3 linked regions of the Homo sapiens genome follow. The protein of the gene in region 3 purifies or fractionates together with the protein of the main gene of each other region. This does not show direct contact. Each region holds a gene or a part of one and is shown on either strand. Other genes may lie near its edges.

Region 1 (7,442 bases), on a different chromosome or scaffold from region 3:
GGCGTGTAACCCAGCTGTAGTCCCAGCTACTCAGGAGGCTGAGACAGGAAAATCGCTTGACCCCAGGAAGTGGAGGTTGCAGTAAGGGGAGATCGTGCCACTGCACTCCACCCTGAGTGACAGGGCAAGACTCCATCTCAAAAAAATAAAAAAAGAGAAAACTGGGCACTGTTACCAAAAGGAAGTGCCAGCCCCAGAGGCTGAGAAGTCCCTCATTCGTGCACAGACTTGTATGCCACTGGGCAGAAGTGCAGTGGGAGGAGAGGAGCAGGCATTGTTGGCCAGGAGCCCTGCATCTTACCTAATGGGCTCCAAAAAGATACGTCTGCTTCCCAATGCCCCAAGACCTGTGAATGGGACCTTATTTGAAAAAATGGGGCTGGGCATGGTGGCTCATGCCTGTAATCCCAGCACTTTGGGAGGCCGAGGCAGGCGGATCACGATGTCAGGAGATTGAGACCATCCTGGCTAACACGATAAAACCCTGTCTCTACTAAAAATACAAAAAGAATGAGCCGGGCGTGGTGGCGGGCGCCTGTAGTCCCAGCTACTCGGGAGGCGGAGGCAGGAGAATGGCGTGAAGCCAGGAGGCGGAGCTTGCAGTAAGCCGAGATCACGCCACTGCACTCCAGCCTGGGCAACAGAGCGAGACTCCGTCTCAAAAAAACAAAAAGAAAAAACGGTCCAGCTAAGTGCAGTGGCTCATGCCTGTCATCTCAGCACTTTGGGAGGCCAATGTGAGTGGATCACCCGAAGTCAGGAGTTCGAGACCAGCGTGGTCAACATGGTGAAACCCCGTCTCTACTAAAAATACAAAAATTAGCCGGGCATGGTGGCGGGCACCTGTAATCCCAGTTACTTGGGAGGCTGAATTGCTTACACCCAGGAGGGGAAGGTCGCAGTGAGCCAAGATTGCACCATTGCACTCCAGCCTGGGCAAAAAGAGTGAGACTTCATCTCCAAAAAAAAAAAAAACGGATAAACGGTCTTTGCAGATGTAATTAAGTTGACAGTACTGAGATACGATCATCCTGGATTAGGGTGGGCCCTCAATCCAATGAGAAGTGTCTTTATAAGACAACTGGAGAAGAGTCACAGAGAAGAAAAACCTGTATGAAAAACAGAGGCAGAGACTGGAGTAATTTGGTACCTGGGGCCACCAGGAGCTAGAGCTACAAGAGGCAGGAAGGAGCCTCCTCTGGAGGCTTTGGAGGGAGCGCAGCCCTGTGATACCCTGATTTCACACTTTTGGCCTCCAGAGCTTAGAGAACAAACTTGTGGGGTTTGGTGGGGAGGGGAATTCTGTTTTGTTTTAGAGATGTAGTCTTGCTCTGTTGCCCAGGCTGGAATGCAGTGGTGAGATCATAGTCCACTAAAACTGGAACTCCTGGGCTGGAGTAACTTTTTTACTTTTTGTTTTTTCAATCCTGGGCCGGCTACTTTTATTTATTTATTTTTATTTTTAGAGGTGAGTGGGGCGGGGGTTCTGGCTATGTTGCCCAGGCTGGTCTTGAACTCCTGGCTTCAGCCTCCAGGGCAGCTGAGATTACAGGCAGAGCCACTGCGCCAGGCAAACTTGGGTTGTTGGCAGGGCGGGGTGGCTCACGCCTGTAATCCCAGCAATTTGGGAAGCCGAGGCGGACGGATCACGAGGTCAAGAGATCGAGACCATCCTGGCCAACATGGTGAAACCCTGTCTCTACTAAAAATACAAAAATTAGCGGAACGTGGTGGCGGGCGCCTGTAGTCGCAGCTACTAGGGAGGCTGAGGCAGGCAAATCGCTTGAACCCGGGAGGCAGAGGTGGCAGTGAGCCGACGTCGCGCCACTGCACTCCGGCCTGGCGACAGAGTGAAACTCCGTGACTGCACTCCAGCCTGGCGACAGAGTGAGACTCCGTCTTAAAAAAAAGAAAAAACAAAACAACAACAACAACAAAACTTGGGTTGTTCTAAGCGACTCGTTCGTGGTCATTCATTCCAGCAGCCTGTGGCGGTGCACACGCCCCTCTCAGCGCAGCCAGGGGCTGGCACCCCCATCCAGGTTGTTCTCAGCCCGCTTTGAAGCCTCCACGGGAAGGCGCAGCGGAGCAGGGACGCGGAAACGCCGCAGCTTCCCAAGCCTCACCCACCTCGCAGCGTCCGCAACCAGTCCACGTTGGGAGCCTGCAGCGCTTCCGGGTCCGTGACGACCCCGCCGGGCACGATGCGCTCAAAGGCGGCCAGGTCCTGCTTAGACACCGTGGAGAACGGCAAGCGCCGCACGGGGTAGCGCTCCCGGGTCAGCGGCACCTCGGGGGTCCCCGGGGCGGAGCAGCAGCCTCTGCGGGCCAGGGGGCCAACCGGCCGACCCCAAGAACCCGCGGCTCCCGGAGCACCCCGCAACAGCCACGCGGGCCACGCCAGAGGCCGACGGGGCAGCATCGCCGCCGGGACGGAGACCTCGGGCTCCTCCTTGGTGGGGGGCCGGTACTCAGGGCCCGGAGGGGAAGGGCAGGGAGCCGCTGGCTGCGCGCCTGGAAGTGGCCAAGGGTAATTTCATGTTTTATGCACGTTGTACAAATTGAAACACGCTTGCAGAAGCAGGGAGGGGGCAGGAGGGCAGCGAAGGGAAGGCTCCGAGCACCCGGGCCCTCCCCCTGCCCGGGCCGCAACCCCGCGAGCGCGCGAAGCCCCACGCAGCAGGCCTGGACTTAGCGACGCGCAGGCTCGGGGCGGCCTCGCCGGGACCTTGCCCAGGACCCCGTTCCTCCGAGCTCGCCCCCCGAGGGGATCCCGCGGACGCGCGCGCGTGTTCCACGCGGTCACGTGACGAGCTGCAGCGCCGTCCCCCTCCCCCCACAGGCACCGACTGGCTGACGGCGCCCGAGATCGCGCCCCGCCACCCCGACCCGCGGCTGAACCGCAGACCGGGACCCTCAGCCCAGCGCTCCGCGCGGCCGCGCGCACGCACCCACGATCACGTCCCGAGCTCCAACCCGCAGCGCCCGCCGCAGGCCCAGAGCCGCCGAGCCGGAGTGGGCGGGGCGACGCCGCGCCTGCGCATTGACGGCTCCGCCCAGCGGCCGAAGCCCCGCCCCGCGCGCCTAACGGGCCCCGCCCCGCCTGCCCTCCAGGCCCAGCCCTGCGCGCCTACAGTCCCCGCCCCGCCGTCCAAGCCCCGCCCCGACTGGCACCGGAGGCTCGACGGCCACCGCCTCGTCCTGCGTTTCCTGAGGGCCTCCGGCGCGCCGGCTGTCGGGCGCATCCCTCCAGGTAGAGAAGGGACTAGGCTGAGCGCAGCCCAAGACGCCCAAGCAGCAGCTGGAGGGTTCTCCAGAACGAGGCCCGGGACGTGGGCTCGGCCGAGGGACCTGGGGGCCGGCCCGCTCCTCCGAGGCCGAGCCCAGGGGGCGCCCCTTTCCCCAGCGGCCTCCCCAGCTCCTGCACGGACCACCCCTCCTGGGTCCCCAGCCTTAGCTTAGGGGGCAGCTGCCTCCTGCAGGTGTTTTCTTGCCTCCCTGTCCCTTCTGCCTGTTCAGCCCTCCGTGCCCTCAAACCCTTTGCACACCTGGGGAGCTCCTGCCCTCCTGACGCAGTAACTGCTGTCCCGAGGAGCCTCCCGGCCTGGGATCCCCTGCCTGAGGCATCGCCAGCACTTGTTTTGTGTTTTTTTGAGACAGGGTCTAGCTCTGTTGCCCAGGCTGGAGTTCTGGGGTTGATCTCAGCTCACTGCAACCTCTGCCTCCCGAGCTCAAACCATCCTCCCACCTCGGCCACCCAAGTAGCTGGGACTACGGGCGTGCACCACCACACCCGGCTAATTTTTTGTTGTTGTTGTATTTTTGTAGAGATGAGGTCTCATGTGCTGCCCAGGCTGGTCTCGAACTCCTGGACTCAAGCGATCCGCCCGCGTCGGCCTCCCAAAGCACTTGTTACTTCAGCTCACCCAATTCCATAGAACCCTAGCGGGTGCAGAGGATGCCAATCTCTGAGCAGATGAGGGCAGAGAGCAGGAGACCACACTTGGCCCGAGGCAGGACTGCGGAGCTGTGCAAGAGGTGGAGGCTACGCCCGTGACAGCAGATGGGTCCTGGTAGTCACACAGAAAACCGGCGAGCTGGATTTGTCCTGGTGATGAGGCTCTGGAGCAGCAGTTGCAAGGAGTCATTCCTGTCCTCCTTAACCACATCCCCAGAGGCCACTCACCTTCTTCCCAGGTGAATCATTCATACAACCCTGGAAAGGAGACATCCACCTGGCCCTTCCTACCTGGCTGGCCCTTGCTCTGCAGATGAGTGTGGGAGTTTGCCCATTGTCAAGGGTAACTGTTGCAATTACACATTCAGGAACTGGAAAGACGACCACAGATGAGGTCTGTGGACCCCCTTACCACCTGACCTCCACACGCCCTCCCTTTGACTAGCAGGCCAGTGGCATCTTGGACCCCTGGGATTAGGAATGATTCAAAACCCATAAAGATTACCACCCATACCATCCCCTAAAATAACTGATTTTTCTGACCAGGCACGGTGGCTCACGCCCATAATACCAGCACTTTGGGAGGCTGAGGCAGGTGGATCACCTGAGGTCAGGAGTTCGATACCAACTGTGGGCGGCAAGCCACCCAGGTGCCGAGGCAAGAGACCGAAGACACGAGCTGTTCCAGTATAATAAAATAAGAATAGTTATACCAGATATAGATCTTAGATATGATTATATATGAATATCATTAATCATTAGTTGGTAGCAATTACTCTTTATTCCAATATTATAATAATCCTCGCTCTACAATCATAACCTAGGAAAAACCAGGCCATACAGAGATAGGAGCTGAGGGGACATAGTGAGGAGTGACCAGAAGAGTGCGAGCCTTCTGTTATGCCCAGACAGGGCCACCAGAGGGCTCCTTGGTCTAGCGGTGACGCCAGCGTCTGGGAAGACACCCGTTACCTAGCGGACCGTGGTCTAGCGGTAGCGAAAAGTGTCAAGAAACACCACCCGCTACTTAGCAGACCGGAAAAGGGAGTCTCCCTTTCCCCGGGGGAGTTTAGAGACGACTGTACTCCTCCACCTCTTGTGGAGGACCTGACATCAGTCAGGCTCGCCCGCAGTTATCCGGAGGCCTAACCGTCTCCCCGTGATGCTGTGCTTCAGTGGTCACGCTCCTAGTCCGCCTTCATGTTCCATCCTGTACACCTGGCTCTGCCTTCTAGATAGCAGTAGCAAAATTAGTGAAAGTACTAAAAGTCTCTAATAAGCAGAAATAATGGCGTAAGCTGTCTCTCTGTCTCCTCTCTCTCTCTGCCTCGGCTGCCAGGCAGGGAAGGGCCCCTGTCCAGTGGACACGTGACCCACATGACCTTACCTATCATTGGAGATGGCTCACTCTCCTTATCCTGACCCTTTGTCTTGTATCCAATAAATATCAGTGCAGCCTGGCATTCGGGGCCACTACCGGTCTCCGCAACTTAATGGTAGTGGTCCCCCAGGCCCAGCTGCCTTTTCTTTTATCTCTGTCTTGTGTCTTTATTTCTGTACTCTCTCGTCTCCGCACATGGGGAGAGACCCACCGACCCTGTGGGGCTGGTCCCTACACCAACCTGGCCAACATGGTGAAACCCTGTCTCTACCAACAATACAAAAATTAGCTGGGCATGGTGGTCGGTGCCTATAATCCCAGCTACTTGGGAGACTGAGGCAAGAGAATGGCTTGAACCTGGGAGGCAGAGGTTGCAGTAAGCTGAGATCACGCCACTGCACTCCAGCCTGGCGACAGAGTGAGATTCTGTCTCAAAAAAAAAAAAAAAAAACTGTCTCAGAAAATAATAACAACTGATTTTTCTTTTTCCCAGGGCATAGTCACCCTAGCAAAGCCCACATGTACCCTCAGAGAATGCTTGGAGGAAAATACGGCATGTGCTGGTTTCAGCGTTGTGGGGCCCTCACCCAGCATCTCAGCCTCCTCTTCCAGCGAGATGGCAGGTGCTGGTTTCCGCATTGTGAGGCCTTCCCCCAGCATCTCAGCCTCCTCTTCCAGCGAGATGGCAGGTGCTGGTTTCGGCGTTGTGGGGCCTTCCCCCAGCATCTCAGCCTCCTCTTCCAGCGAGGACTCCAGTCTACGGATTGGTTTTCACCTGGACGGTGGGTGAGAGGCCGACTGTACCTCGTGATGACCAAGCTCTTCCCGGGTTCTGTTAATGCACTCCTCAAGGCAACATCTTGAGACCCATCAGCTCCTGTTATGTTTGTGTCCCCCAGAATTCGTATGCAGAAGCTGTAACCCCCAATATGGCCGTATTTGGAGATGGAACTTCTGAAGAAGTAATTAAGGTTAAAGTCAGTCACAAGGGTGGGGTCCTGATCCGACAGGACAGGCATCCGTAAAATAAGAGACACCAGAGAGCTCCCTCTCCCAGTCAGTTTCGTAGGCACACATGAGAAGGCAGTGTTCACAACCCAAGGGAAGAGCCCTGGACAGGCACCAGACAACCCCAGCGCCTTAATCTTGGACTTCCAATCTCCAGAAATATAAGACATTTTTCTTAAGCCTCCCAGTCTGTGGTATTGTGATAACAGCCTGATATGGTTTGGATTTGTGTCCCCGCCCATAATCCCCAATGTTGGGGGAGGGGCCTGGTAGGAGGTGACTGGCTCATGGGCGCAGATTTCCCCTTGCTGTTCTTGTGGAGGTAAGTGAACTCTCAGGAGACCTGCTTGTTTAAAAGTGTGGCACCTTTCCCCTTTGCTCCCTTTCTCTCCTGGTCTGCCGTGGTAAAACGTGCTTGCTTCCCCTCCGCCTTCTGCCATGATGTAAGTTTCCTGAGGCCTCCGCACCACGCTTCCTGTACAGCCTGCAGAACTGTGAGTCAATTAAACCTCATTTCTTTATAAATTACACAGTCTCAGGTCGTTCTTTATAGCAATACAAGAATGGACTAATACAGAGCCTAAGCTGACTCCAGCAGCTTCCAAAAGGCAAGTGCAACACGGTAAGTCTTGCCCTTCCAGAGCAAGCACAGTACTCCTTTAGAAAGCAACTGCAGCGGCCGGGCGTGGTGGCTCACGCCTGTAATCCCAGCACTTTGGGAGGCCGAGGCAGGCGGATCACGAGGTCAGGAGATCGAGACCATCCTGGCTAACACGGTGAAACCCTGTCACTACTAAAAATACAAACAATTAGCCGGGCATGGTGGTGGGCGCCTGTAGTCCCAGCTACTCGGGACACAGGCAGGAGAATGGCGTGAACCTGGGAGGCGGAGCTTGCAGTGAGCAGAGATTGCACCACTGCACTCCAGCCTGGGCAACAGAGTGAGACTCCGTCTCAAACAAAAAAAAAAGAAAGCAACTGCAGCATTCTCACACGTCTTCCTTGGAAGTCAACTTGAGCCCCAGCACTGGCCACTGAGCTTCCTGAGCAACCACCCAAGGTAAGGCACAGGGTCCTCCCCAGACCCCCAGCCAG
Region 2 (7,026 bases), on a different chromosome or scaffold from region 3:
ATTCTAAACAAAATATCAAGTCATAAAACTAACCTCTAAAGGATTACTATTAATGAACACTAAGAAGCACCTCTCTGATTTTGTCACTGGGGGGAAAAAAGGGCCATAGTACCAAATATCACCTGATTTACCTCCCAATTCATAACAATGCCAAACAAGGACAGAAGAAAAGAGAGATGGATTCAAGCATCAATTCTCACTACCCTTGGGAGGGAGGACAAATATGCCATAAGAAGTTTAGAAACAAAAACTCCAGCCCGGGCAACATGGTAAAACCCTATCTCTACTACCGAAAGAAAAAAAAAAAAAATCAGCCAGGCATGATGGCATGCACCTGTAGTTCCAGGTACTCAGGAAGCTGAAGGAGGAGGATCGCTTGAGCCTGGGAGGTGAAGGCTGCAGTGAGCTGAGATTGCGCCAATGCACTCCAGCTAGGGTGACAGACTGAGACCCTGTCTCAAAAGAAAAAAAAAGGAAGGAAAAGAAAAAGAAACAAGCAAAAACTAATTTATGGTGATAGAGGTTAGAGGTTAAAATAGTGGTTACTTCTGTAGGGAGAAATTAATAGGAGGGAGCACAAGGCACCTTTAATCAGTGAAGAAAAATATTCTACATCTCTATCTGGGTATTTCATTTAAAATAGGCTCTAATCACGGAAAATGCTTGCATTCCACAATTCTCATGTCTGTGCTTTTTTTACATCCTCTTCTCCCCAGGTGTAACCCAGTACCTCCCACTACCTGGGAGTTACCTAGGTATACTTATATGTATAAATTCACTGAGTTGTACTTAAGATTTGTGCACTTCACTGTATGTTATACCTAAAAAAAATACTTAAAAACAAGTAACCAATTAATAGCTAAATCTAAAAACCTTTTCTCAATTCTCATCCTTCTTTATCAATCTCCATCATATTGTTAATCACAGAACATCAATATTCCCTAAATGAAACACTTTCCCTTTTGAAGATCGACTAGGCTTTGTTAGGATGTTTTTTCCAGCATTTTCTGTAGTGTCATATTAATTCTCTCTAAATATTAATTCAATATTTATCTTTTTTCTTTTGTTTTTTGGAGACTGAGTCTCACTCTGTCGCCCAGGTGGGGATGCAGTGGCATGATCTTGGCTTACTGCAACCTCCGCCTCTCATGTTTAAGCAATTCTCCCGCCTCAGCCTCCCAAGTAGGTGGCATTATAGGTGCACACCACCATGCCCAGCTAATTTTTGTATTTTCAGTAGAGACGGGATATTTCATCATATTGGCCAAGCTGGTCTCAAACTCCTGACCTCAGGCGATCTGCCGACCTCAGCCTCCCATAGTGCTGGGACTACAGGCATGAGCCAATGCACCCAGTTAATTCAGTATTTATCAAGTGCTCATGTATGAGACACGAATTAGGCACCCTCCAATATATATTTCCAATCTCTCTCTCACACACACACACACACACACACACACACACATACACACACACACACACATATACACACCCAAACCAAATTCCCTAAACTGGATTCAAGCCACTCTATTACCTGGTATCAAACTGTATTTGCTGTTTTAATTCCTATCACTTCTTTATGGGAATATTCTTCTCAAGCATTTTCTGTTCTCAGCTATCCTTTACGGTTCAGTTCAATTTCTATGTTATTCTTTCCCTATACCCCATAGGACTTACTATCTGTAATTGCACTGTCCAATACAGTAACTTCATGTGGCTACTGAATACCTGAACTCTGGCTAGTCTGAATTGAGATGTGCTTTAAGTATGTAATACTAACAGATTTTGAAGACTTAACATGGTTAAAAAAAGAAAAAATGTAAAATAGTTCAATCATGTTTATATGATGAAATAATAGTATTTAGATACTGGGTTAAATAAAAATCCATTAATAAAATTTCACCTATTTATTTTATTTTTTGATGTGGCTATAGAAAATCTAAAATTGCATTTGTGGCTCAACTTATATTTCTATTGGGCAGTGCTGACCTATACAATCTATTTATAAATGCCCACAAATTACCTTTTTCTTCTTCTTCTTCTTAAACTGATAAATACAAATTGTATATATTTATGGTGTACAACACATTTTGAAATACATATAAATTATGCAATGGTTAAATCTAGCTAATTAACACATGCATTACCTCACATAGTTATATTTTGTGGTGTGAACACTTAAAATGTACTCTCCTAGCAACTTTCAAGTATGCAATATTAACTATAGTTACTATGCCCCACAAATTATCTCTTAACATATAATGTCATCTTCCCGATGAGTGCCAGAATTCAACATTAAGCTTTTTTCTTTTATGAATTAAATATTATATTAGGAATTACTAATAGTAATTAAGTGCCATTTAATTTTAATATCCCTTTAAGATTTTTAACAAGGAAGTGTAAGGCATTTCAAAGTGTTCAAATATTAAAAAAAAGTTGTTTTCAGATAGCTATAAATTATACAATTTTTCATCTATATTTTACTTATATACAATTCTAAGTCAAATGTCCCACCAGCAAGGATAGATAGCATGATTAAACCTGTAGCAATCCAAATCCCATAAAGTATTAGTTCTGATTAAGCCTGATTTTTTTCATCTTAGTCACTCAGTAAAGGGCAGCATCCATTTTGGTCAACATCATTGTACCAATGTCCAGCAGCCAAGACAAAGAGCCTTTATATGGTGGTATGAATAGACAATGAGAGCAATACGACACCACTTGAAATAAGGGGGGGGAGAAAAATGTTTTTATAATGCTAAGTTTTAAAACTAGGAGATGAAACTTACAAATTGTGTAACAACTAGGTAAAAGGATATATATGTAAGAAGAACAGGAAGGTAGAACAGAAAGGTCTCCTCTCTAGACCTTCTCAAGATATACCTAGGTTCAAACTTGGCTACTCCATTATTAAGTGGATGTGTTTCCTCACATGTAAAGTGGGAATATATACATCACAGGATTATTAAAAGAATATAGTAGATGCTTAATTAACGTCATCTGTCTTTAATACTAATAATTATATAATGGTAATAAGATTATGGGTGACTTCCCCTCCCTCACTTTCCAAATTGCTGTATTTTTCAAGCATAAATGAAAAACTTACAATTTCATACTAGTACCCCTCCTCAAATGAACCTAAAATTATTTTTACTAGCTGTCTTTGACAAATTTGCTTATAAGCTTAAAATCCGTGTTTGTGCTAGGAGGAGGTTGGTGGTAGAAAGAAAATTAAAGAGGGGGAACTGATAACTTTAACACCATACCAGCACAGACATATACAAAACAAAGTGTGGAGAGGAAAAGAGCAAAAGGAAATGCTGTTTGGGAAATTCCCAACTCAGACTATCCAATGAAAAGATTATATTCCACCCGCCTCAATCTAGCTACCTACCAGCCACTCCTCACTCTCATCTTGGGTTTATACGTACATTACAAATACGCATAGCCACTCACCTTCTTCTCTCTACTAATAGTCACCACATGGCCTCACAGTCAAAAATTGAAAGGAGAGTGAAGAAATTCAGCATGTTATAACAAAGACAAACCAATGCACTGGCTGGGAAATAACTTCATTAAAATGTACTCATTCCCAAGTGTATCTACTCATCTGCTGACAGTGCTGGGAATGCATTCCTGAAATATTTAACCTGGTTATAAGATTCTGCTGCTAGAATCAGAGAAGGCACACTTTGATGCCTACCTCTCACTTCCTCTATAACAACCTTGTCTTTATCGGCATGGCTTAAAATGGGACATTAGCAAAAGTATACAACTGCAAATCACTCACAGGTGAAAATCTCAAGTTAATGTAGAAAGAATAATTAAACAATGGTAATAATAACTATTATTACTCTAACAGGTAACACTTACTTTACTCAGCATTGTATGCCAGAAAGCTAAGGACTTTACATGAATTATGTAATATCAACCCTAAACCTCTTTGAAGATGGTAATTACTAATTCCACTTGCCTAGTGCTCACACAGCTAAATCTGAACCCTGTCAATTTTACTTCAAGGCTTACACTTTCAAACTTTATCATATCCTGCCTCTTTATATATGCATAATTACAATTGCAATTGTGATTCTATGTGTGTGTGTGTCTGTGTGTAAAGTATTTAGTGAGTCAGTAGCAAACAAAAGGCAATTAATTCCAACTCTGTGAAGCCTTTTACCCACCTTCACAAACCAACAATAAATTGGGAATTACCCCTCTCCTCCCCAATAAATGGTGCTCTGAAAGTACTAGTTTTACAGTCATACATCACTTAAGCATGGATGTACATTCTGAGAGATGCATTCTTAGGCAATTTGGTCACTGTGCAAACATCACAAAGTGTACTCAAACAAACCTAGATGGTAGAGCCTACTTACACACCTAGGCTACTTGGTATAGCCTATTGTTCCTAGGCTACAACATGCTCCTGTAAAGCATGTTATTGTACTGAATACCACACACAACTGTAACATAACTGTTTAGTATTTGTGTATCTAAACATAGAACATAAAATACAGTAAAAATACAGTATTACAATCTTATGGGACCACCATCGTAAATGCAGTCCACTATTGACCAAAGAACATCATTATGCTGCACATGACTGTATTTAATATCTTCCTCAAGAAACTAATGAAAGAGATACTTTTAAGTAAAATATTAATCTTTTCAAAAAATTAGATAAAATAATTGATAGACTACAGGTAAACATGCTTTGTAAAGTGTAAAGAATTTTAATCAACACTTTATTAGGTATTTTTAATTTTCAGTTGTCTATTTGGCTCAAAATATACTTACGTTTCTAGAGTTTGAACAAAGTCTTTTTTATTTGAGACAGGGTCTCACTCTGTCACCCAGGCTAGAGTGCAGTGGCACGGCATCTCTGCTCACTGAAGCCTCTGCCTCCTGGGTTCAAGTGATTCTCCTGCCTCGGCCTCCCAAGTAGCTGGGACTACAGGCACGTGCCACCATGCCCAGCTAATTTTTGTATTTTTGGTAGAGACAGGGTTTCATCATGTTGACCAGGCTGGTCTCAAACTCCTGACCTCAAGTGATCCACCCACCTTGGCCTCCCAAAGTGCTGGGATTACAGGTGTGAGCCTCCACACCCGGCCTATATAAAGTATTTTAAAAGCTGTATTTTCAACTTAAAAAAAAGATACACATACCAAAAGGCTTAACACATAAAATCTGCCTTCATCACTCTAACCCAGCTTCAATTCTACCAAAATCTAGGCTAACAGAATTAAGCTTCAAGGAACAAATCATTTATCTTTATTTTTACTTACAAAATCTCAGTTCAAAGGATTCCAAATGAAATGGGAAGACCACAGCTAGCAGACAGAAGAGGTAGGGCCAAGATTAGTAGGAGAGGGGAAAGAAAATCTCCCAGAAACGCTAATCTTAATCCAGTCTCACTTTCTCCCAACCAAGAGAAGTGTGCACTGCTGCTACTTCTGCCCTGGCAGGCTCCTCCTCCTCTTACTCTTGAAATCCTCTGCTTTTTTCCTCCTGGAAAGTTACTCTCACAGGGCTGTTTTTCTTCCTAACATCTCTCAATTGTCAAAGGATTTCTTATCTTGAAATTAAAAGAATAAAAATATACTAACTTTCCATAATCACATAAGAGTTCCCAGGAAGTTCAAAAAGGATAGTAACTACTGCCAGGTGCGGTGGCTCACGCCTGTAATCCCAGCACTTTGGGAGGCCAAGGCGGGTGAATCACCTGAGGTCAGGAGTTCGAGACCAGCCTGGCCAACATGATGAAACCCCATCTCTACTAAAAATACAAACATTAGCCAGGTGTGGTGGCCGGCGCCCGTAATCCCAGCTACTTGAGAGGCTGAGACAGGAGAATCACTTGAACCTGAGAGGCAGAGGTTGCAGTGAGCCAAGATTGCACCACTGCACCCGCGCCTGGGAAACAGACCGAGACTCCGTCCCCCAACCAAAAAGAAAGAAAAAGAAAGGATAGTAACTCCATGGTTCAACTTGGCAGATCTGCAAAAAAAATTATAATGCAGCAACTAAGGCCTTAGAGACAAGAAAACACCTTTTTCATGGGAACTTCCTCTCCCTGAAGAAAGACAGAATTTAATTTAGAGTCTTACTACCCTCTGGGTCTCCTGTGATCTTCATGTTTGTTTCTTAAGGGGAAGAGGAGAAATCTTTTAGCCAACCAGCAGGGTGAGCTAGTGCTAGCATCAGTTCCATGATTCTCAAATCTCCCAAAACTCAATGGTGTAAACGGCTTGCACTATTAACAGCAGCTATTTATTTCCCTCTAATAAACCTGAATCAAAAACACCACTTCTAGAACTGCTTCAGTCAATGCTATACCTGACAACTTTACTCAATATTTACAGATTCTCCATATACGAAATAGACATTCTCTCTACCAGAAAGATTAATAAGTGTAAATAAAAGCTCATTTGAATATGTATCCATAGTATTACAGTATCCACTCTTCATTCTCGTTTTATTTTACAAGGTTACTAATTTAAAACATTTAGAAAACAGTTTAAAAAATGGTTAAAACAAGTGCTCTATAAAATCAGGGTTAGATAACTCAACATGCCAATTTCTCCATTTGCTGCAAGCTACAATTGTCTTAAGACCTGACTGAAAAGCCTTCCCAAGAATAAGATTCACTTTTCCTTCCAGAATCACATCCTGAGAAAATGGTCTAAATAAGTAACACTAAAAAACAATATTTAGGATGACAGAAAAAAAATGGACCTGACCTTTCTCTAGATTGCAGATATCCCACCACTTCTATTCTCTTTGAAACTTTCTTTTCTCCTCCTGCTACCCATTAACAGTCTCAATTCAACCAAAACACTCTTATAACTTGAATGACAAACTAAAACTGGAAAATGTTTAAGGTTGGCAGGTGACAGACCACTTTATAACTACAAATAACCTGAAAGTGACTCTAATTTTCACAAAATGAAAGTGTAAGTAAATCCACTCACATAATGTTGAAAATTATAAAACAGCTTATCAACTAACAAAAATCAGTAATTT
Region 3 (7,026 bases):
AGGACGACTCCCCTCAGCTGAGCGAGGAACTCCGGCGGGCAGTGGAGAAGAAAAAGTGCTCCTTGTGCTCTTTCCAGTCGTTCAGCAAGAAGGGCATCGTGTCCCATTACATGAAACGCCACCCAGGGGTGTTCCCAAAGAAGCAGCACGCCAGCAAGTTGGGGGGCTACTTCACGGCCGTCTATGCAGATGAGCATGAGAAGCCCACACTGATGGAAGAAGAGGAGAGAGGCAACTTTGAGAAAGCCGAGGTGGAGGGTGAAGCTCAGGAAATCGAGTGGCTCCCATTCCGCTGCATCAAATGCTTCAAGCTGTCCTTTAGCACTGCAGAGCTGCTGTGCATGCATTACACTGACCACCACAGTCGGGACCTAAAGAGGGACTTCATCATTCTGGGCAACGGCCCCCGCTTGCAGAACTCCACCTACCAGTGTAAGCACTGTGATAGCAAACTGCAAAGCACAGCCGAGCTGACCTCACACTTGAACATTCACAATGAGGAATTCCAGAAGCGTGCCAAACGTCAGGAGAGGAGGAAACAGCTTTTGAGCAAGCAGAAATATGCAGATGGTGCTTTTGCAGATTTCAAACAAGAGAGGGTAAGGATATGTTTTGATTTCCCTTCCCCCAGGAGGCCTCTCATCACTGGTGCCCACATGCACTTCTTCGTTGCCAGCCAAACTGCTGCAGGCTTCCTAGTGACTTAGCTTGCCAGAGAGCTCAATAAGTCAATTAAACATTTCGAGCTTGATTATCTCCCATTCTGTGCTCACCCCTCTCCTTGGTCCCTTCTCCTCCCTCCTTCCCTTTGACTCCTCCCATGGCTCCCCAGGGGAGGTTTGGGGTGGTTTCTATGTATGTCTTTCTGCCAAGTAGCTTTATCTGAAGCCTAGTTTTACAACAACGCTCGCTCTTTCCTAAGGCAGTGTGGGCTGTCTCTTGGTACCATTAGCACTTCTCAGCCATGTCTTGGTCTTCAGTGTTTGCTACATGAACCTAACGTCTCCAGGAGTAGATTTTATTTTATCAAGAAGTTCATTAATGGCGCAACTATGCAACGTTTCACCTGCCTAGTTGAAACTGGTTTGAAAACCAGATGACTTAGTGGCAGTGACGATGAGCTTCTGCACAGAAATCTTCTCTACTCACAAGCCGTAATGTATTTGGGTTTCAAAGACTTTGCATAGTAGGCAGCGTGCCATGATGCTGACAAATTTGTTATATAAAAATACTCGCCTATATCTCCCTTGGTTTTTAACCTGCTAATCGGCTTTAAAATAAAGTATGTTAGTAAACTGCAAGAATAAATTCTGACAATTGAGGGAGGGCTCGGAGTACTGATGGCTACCACTGTATTTTACCAGCCTTTTGGTCACTTAGAAGAGGTGCCAAAGATCAAGGAGAGGAAAGTGGTGGGCTACAAATGTAAATTCTGTGTGGAAGTGCACCCAACGCTCCGAGCCATCTGCAATCACCTCCGAAAGCACGTCCAGTATGGCAATGTCCCAGCTGTGTCAGCTGCTGTGAAGGTGAGAACTGGAAGGTCTGGATGAGCATTGTGTGTGAGCGATTCGAGTTACTTATTAACCCCATTGCCTAAAGCAGCTCAGGAAAGAGCATCTCAGAATGCGGGCATTCCTGAATTATGCTTGGATTGGTTTGGCTTGTTTTGATTTCTTTGCAGGTTGGACCTTCCTCATCTTTCTGTTCAGGGAAAGGTCGAGTTTCGATCTGGTTTCCTTCCACGCGGATAGTTTGGTGGCAGCAGAAGGTCCAGGATTCTCGGTCTAGGAGGCTTCGGGTCGTCCTTCTATTCTGCGTTTAGTGCCATTAGCTCTTCGTTCTTCCAAGTTGCCCGAGCTCTTGAGAGGAATCAAGTGGGTTCTGTTCCCATCATCTTCTGCTCCTCTTTCTTCCTGACTTCTTACTGTTCTCATCTGGCTGAGGATGCAGAGAGCCTAGGAGAATCTCTTTGTCTTCTTATCCTGGGTCCTCTGGGGACTGCAAGAGACATTAAAACTAAAAGCGTTCAAGTCGCAATTGACCCTGAAAGCCTTGGTTTGTCTCCTCCATCCCCTCTCCCATATGATGCTGACAAGTGTCTTCCCTTTTCCCTCTGACTTTTATTAGGCCACCTGTTTTGAACATCATAATCCTAATAGCAGCCACCATGTCAGTAACCAAGCCACCATCCCCGTCTTCCAGGATATTGCTAAGCCCTATTATTTATTAAAACAGAAGTCATTTTGGGGTTCTGCCCTTTCTCTAAGGGTACACGCGAACATATTTTTGTCATCTGCCCTTCTTGAGCTTACATCCTATTTTGCCAATTTAACATGAAGATAAAGTCTCTACTTTTCTTCACTGAAGACTGAAGCTTTCTGTCTTTTGGCAGAACAGTGGCAACCCAGGGATATCAGCAGTCACTTTCTTTCAGACACCACTGCGGTGTGTCCCAGGCTCGTTTCCTGGGATCATGTGAGAGAGACAGAAGGGCTTTTCCTGTGTAATCAGTAACCCAAGGAGCTATCTCGAAAAACAGGTGACTTAAAACTAGGCTGCTCCTTAATTTTTTGAATTGATTATGCAGCAGTCTCCAGTCATAGAGTGAAGTCACCATCTACAGGGTAGGGGGCAGACAGCGGGATCTTTTGCTTTGCTTCCTTTCCAGATAATGGCCCAAGGCTCCTCAATGACCATACTACTTTGCTTTTCTTTCTCTTCCTTTCTTCCTCTCCTTTCTGTGAGCCACAACCCTAGCCCAACTTTATGTCAACTTAGATGGGGTTGCAGTTTGAATTTTCTTTTAAGATGGGGAAGAAGTGAGTGAAGTGTCTTCAGAGTGGGAGAAGCCCTTGTTCACATTTCGCAAACAGTAGCAACCTGTGTCCGGGTATGTTGTCCTAAAATCACCTCCACTGCATGAAGAATGGCAGTTGGGCTTGCTCTCCCTCTAGGGGTAGCTGGAGAGGCAGGGGAGGAAGCTTTGACAAGAAGTGCTGTTGAGTTTGGGAGAATGTAGGGAGAAAAAGAAAGCTGGAGGCAATGATGATGGATATTTATTTTGTTGGTGGGGCATGTGTGTGTGTGTGGTTCTCTTAGCAGGAGGCGGATGACCCTGCCCACTTGTTCCTGGATGGATTGGAAGCAGCCAAAGACGCCAGTGGCGCCCTGGTGGGCCGGGTGGATGGTGAACACTGCTTGCTTGATGGAATGTTGGAGGATGAAACCCGGCCGGGGGGATACCATTGCAGTCAATGTGACAGAGTCCTGATGTCCATGCAGGGGCTGCGTTCTCATGAGAGGAGCCACCTGGCCCTGGCCATGTTTACCCGCGAGGACAAGTACAGCTGCCAGTATTGCTCGTTTGTTTCTGCTTTCAGGCACAAGTAAGTGCTATTGGGGGGTCACTAGTGGTTACTGGGAGATGATGTCATAGTGGAAGGCACTAAGCTAAAGCAGAAGCTTGGATGAGTAAGAAGGCCCCACTCATGGTTCACACCTGCTGCTATGTTACCTGGAGCCTCAGTCACCTTTTCTGTAAAATGGGGCTGAGAACAGGAGATTGATCGGATGGCGTTAGATTTGGCAAATGCAGGCATTTTAAAAATGAGAATTGGAGGAATTGCTATGATTTACCCAAAGGTAAAATGGCATCTGTGGAGAGTAGATGAGTCTCCTGATTCATCGTTCAAACATTCAGCCAAAATCTAGTCATTGTTTGAGGAAGTAAAGTCCATTTAGAAAACTGAGTTGCTAAAGAGGTAAAATTAGGACTATTAACCCATGTGACCAAAGAAACATTGCTTGCAATTTTTCAAAAGATCTTGAAAGGTAAAGAAGTTCATGGATGCCAAAGAGTTGCTTGACATACAGGGAGATTGAGGAGAGGGAGCTTCCCATTACTCATCACAGCTTTGAAAGTGTAAATATGGAATAGGTGTGTAAGGCTTTTTGGGGCCATGGAAAGAGGGGTGGTTTTAAGAACAACTTTTTGTTGCCTTTCTCTTTCAGCCGTGTAAAAGAGAGATAAATATTCAATAATGCGTTTGGACAGTCTTGGATAAAGGTGACTAAGACTGACATGCTTTTTAAAACAATTTTTTTAATGAAATAAATGATGGACTATTTGCTTCTTACAAAAGATAAAGGGCCAGTTAGTGGTTGTTGAACAGAAGAAGGAGGTGGTGTTTTCACAGAGGTTAGGATGGGTTGTAAACACTTTATTATTATACAGAGCCTAATATCTAATCTTTGTCATCAGATCCATACATTGGCATAAAACTTGAAATACTTCAATTCAAGAAGTATTTATTGAACAGCATCTATCACATTGTCTGACGCACAGTGGAACTTTAAATAATTGTGAATAAATGAATATATCCTGTCCTAGGTACTGTACTTTTGGGAAATATAAAGACACAGGCCATGGTCTGTGGCCAGGGGAATTTAGGGTCAAGGGTTGGTTTATGAAATTAAAAAAAAACAAAACAAAACCCACTGACTCATCAAAATAAAGCACGTCTTTGAAAATATCAGTAAAATACTATGATGTGTCAAAGAAGAGAAATGTTACATCAGCTTTGGAAGAGTCAGGAAGGTTTTATGGCATAAGGAGCATTTGGGTGAAGTCTTAAAGTAGGAAAATAGGACTTGAATAGTTTGGAAAGGACATATGATGTAGAGGAAAAGCTGAGGGAGGAGACCATGAAGCTGACTGGGGCCCTAGCTGGGGGTTCAGTTTGACTAATCCTTAAGTTACATGTAAAGGAATAGTGAAAGATAAGGTCTAAATACTTTAAAGGAGACCATATTTGGAGTTTTAAATGCCAGGAAATAGTATTTCATAATTTAAATTGCTGGTAAAAGGAAGAGTCAAATTAGCAAAATAATTATAATTGCTAACATTTATTGCATCTCACTATATACCAGGCACTGTACTAAGGGCCTTTAAATATTACTTAATTTCATTCTCAAAACTCTCCTATAAGGTATGGCCCCATTATTATCATCTTATGAATAAGAAGAGTAAAGCCTAGAAAAATTAAGTAATTTGCCCAAGGACACACAGCCTATATGTAATGGCTGAGATTTTATCCCAGGTAGTCTGACTCCATAGCGTGTGCTCTTGAGATGAAAAAAAAAAAAAAAAAATCCATGGGGGCTGGGGGACAAGGAATTAAGAAGCAATAATAGTAGCTAGTTCAAGAAGTTAGGGAATGATTGAAGGAATGGATTTGCCTGACTTGGAAAAATTGACTTCATGCGTGGGATGAGGGACAAAGTAAAATACAAATGGCAACTAGGTTTTCAGTTTACTCATCTGGAAGAAAGGTTAGTGCCATTTATAGAAACAAGGAAATGAAGAAGAGAATTTGTTTTGTAGAAAACTCTCTGATGGGTTTGTTTAGAACAGGTTGAGTTAAAGAGAACTAAAGGACACCCAGAGGGAGCTGTCCAGGGGCAATTGAAAATGTTGCTTTGGAGCTCAGGACAGCATTATATGTTGAAATGGTAAGCAGTACCGTTCCCACATGAGGCATTTAGAAGGGAATTTAGTTCTCTGGAGTGCTGATACAAATTAGAACTTCCCACACCTTGTTTGGTAGATTTATTATTTTTTTAGGCTAATAATTATTATGAAGTACTAGGGGTTCGTTGTAATTAAATAACTCCCTTGTAAATTGCTTCTGGAAGACTTACAGCAAACATGGTTGTGTGTATCAGAAGGGATGTGCGGCCTTTTGACCACGTGGCTCCTTTAAACATGCATGCACTGTGCCTCCATATTAATATAGACCCTGGCAACAAGACAGCCCATTGCAAGAAGGTCAGCCACTTCGAAACCTCCCTTCCTCACTCTAGTGTTCACAATGAAAGTAGAATTAGAATTCAAAAAGAAAGTCAGCTCTTTTCAAATGCTAAATTTCTCTAATTCCCATTCTGTTATTTGAATAAGTTAGAGGACTAATTGATAGGCACTCTCACTGGCTTGGCAGGAAGCTTGAATTCACCCATATTGTACCTTCTCTTTAGATACACTCTTCCAATGATCAGAGCTCTAAGAAGGGACAATAAAGATTCTTACCATGACCTGTTACCACTGCCATATCTCTAAATCCAAAAAAAACTCTTGATCTCTTCCTTTAGCTTCCTGTCCTCTTAGAGTAGGTACAACTCTTGAAAATTAATTAATTAAATTGATAAATGCCATTATTGGAAAGTAAACAAAAGGACTTTGAACGACCTAGAAGTAGGATTCCTGGAAAAAAAGCAATGAGCAAATCCTCTATGCAATTTTTAATTTTGTCATTTTTCTTTTTGTTTTCCTTCTACATCAAGTTTGGATCGCCATATGCAAACCCACCACGGACACCATAAACCATTCCGATGCAAACTCTGCTCCTTCAAGTCCTCCTATAACAGCCGGCTGAAAACACATATACTCAAAGCTCATGCTGGTGAGTTGTGCATTGATGATGCACAAGTTCTTTAGCACTCTCTGAGTTTGAAACCTGATGATCTTTATTGAGTGAAATACTGTCCTGCCTTACACTTGAGAATGTTATTCTTGGGATGGATGTATATTCAGTTTTATTTTTACCTAGTAAAGAAAAAATAAAGAAAAAAGTAAAAGTTAAACAAAATCACCTAAATCCAAAATAATACAAAGCCTATGTCACCCATGTTATGGTTAGTTCGTTCGTCCTACTGACAAGTTAGAATTAGACTGTTGGTGATTTTTACAGAAATTTCTAAACTGCCTATACTTTCTAATTCAATTGCCAAGAATTGTTATATCTATTAAAAAGACTTTCCAGCTAAAATAAAGTTACCAACTTAAGGAAGTTAGAAAGGGCAAAGGGAACTCAAGATGTGTGAGATTTTTCAAGAGATACCCTTAGATATGTTTCCGTACATAAGACAGAAATGACTTTGGGTTGTGAGTGTCCAGCAGCTGTGCTGGTCTCTATCATATTGTTGTTCCATCTCATTACTCATTAGAAAAAATTGGAAATGAAAGAA

What was found. The genes of interacting proteins can lie anywhere in the genome.
Region 1: the proteins of ZNF462 (region 3) and D2HGDH purify together in Homo sapiens (affinity purification with mass spectrometry; 3 studies listed by BioGRID and IntAct, with this or other methods). This does not show direct contact.
Region 2: the proteins of ZNF462 (region 3) and ZNF644 purify together in Homo sapiens (affinity purification with mass spectrometry; 3 studies listed by BioGRID and IntAct, with this or other methods). This does not show direct contact.

What each region holds. Positions count from the first base shown.
Region 1 is NC_000002.12:241,730,205-241,737,646, reverse strand, and holds the start of D2HGDH (D-2-hydroxyglutarate dehydrogenase, mitochondrial isoform 1 precursor), read right to left. Parts: upstream 3,018-7,442; 5' UTR 2,952-3,017; intron 2,515-2,951; 5' UTR 2,423-2,514; coding exon 2,131-2,422; intron 1-2,130.
Region 2 is NC_000001.11:91,012,019-91,019,044, forward strand, and holds part of ZNF644 (zinc finger protein 644), read right to left. Parts: intron 1-7,026.
Region 3 is NC_000009.12:106,929,161-106,936,186, forward strand, and holds part of ZNF462 (zinc finger protein 462), read left to right. Parts: coding exon 1-599; intron 600-1,364; coding exon 1,365-1,529; intron 1,530-3,102; coding exon of another isoform or gene 3,103-3,285; coding exon 3,286-3,389; intron 3,390-6,342; coding exon 6,343-6,461; intron 6,462-7,026. UniProt on the Homo sapiens protein: Zinc finger nuclear factor involved in transcription by regulating chromatin structure and organization. Involved in the pluripotency and differentiation of embryonic stem cells by regulating SOX2, POU5F1/OCT4, and NANOG.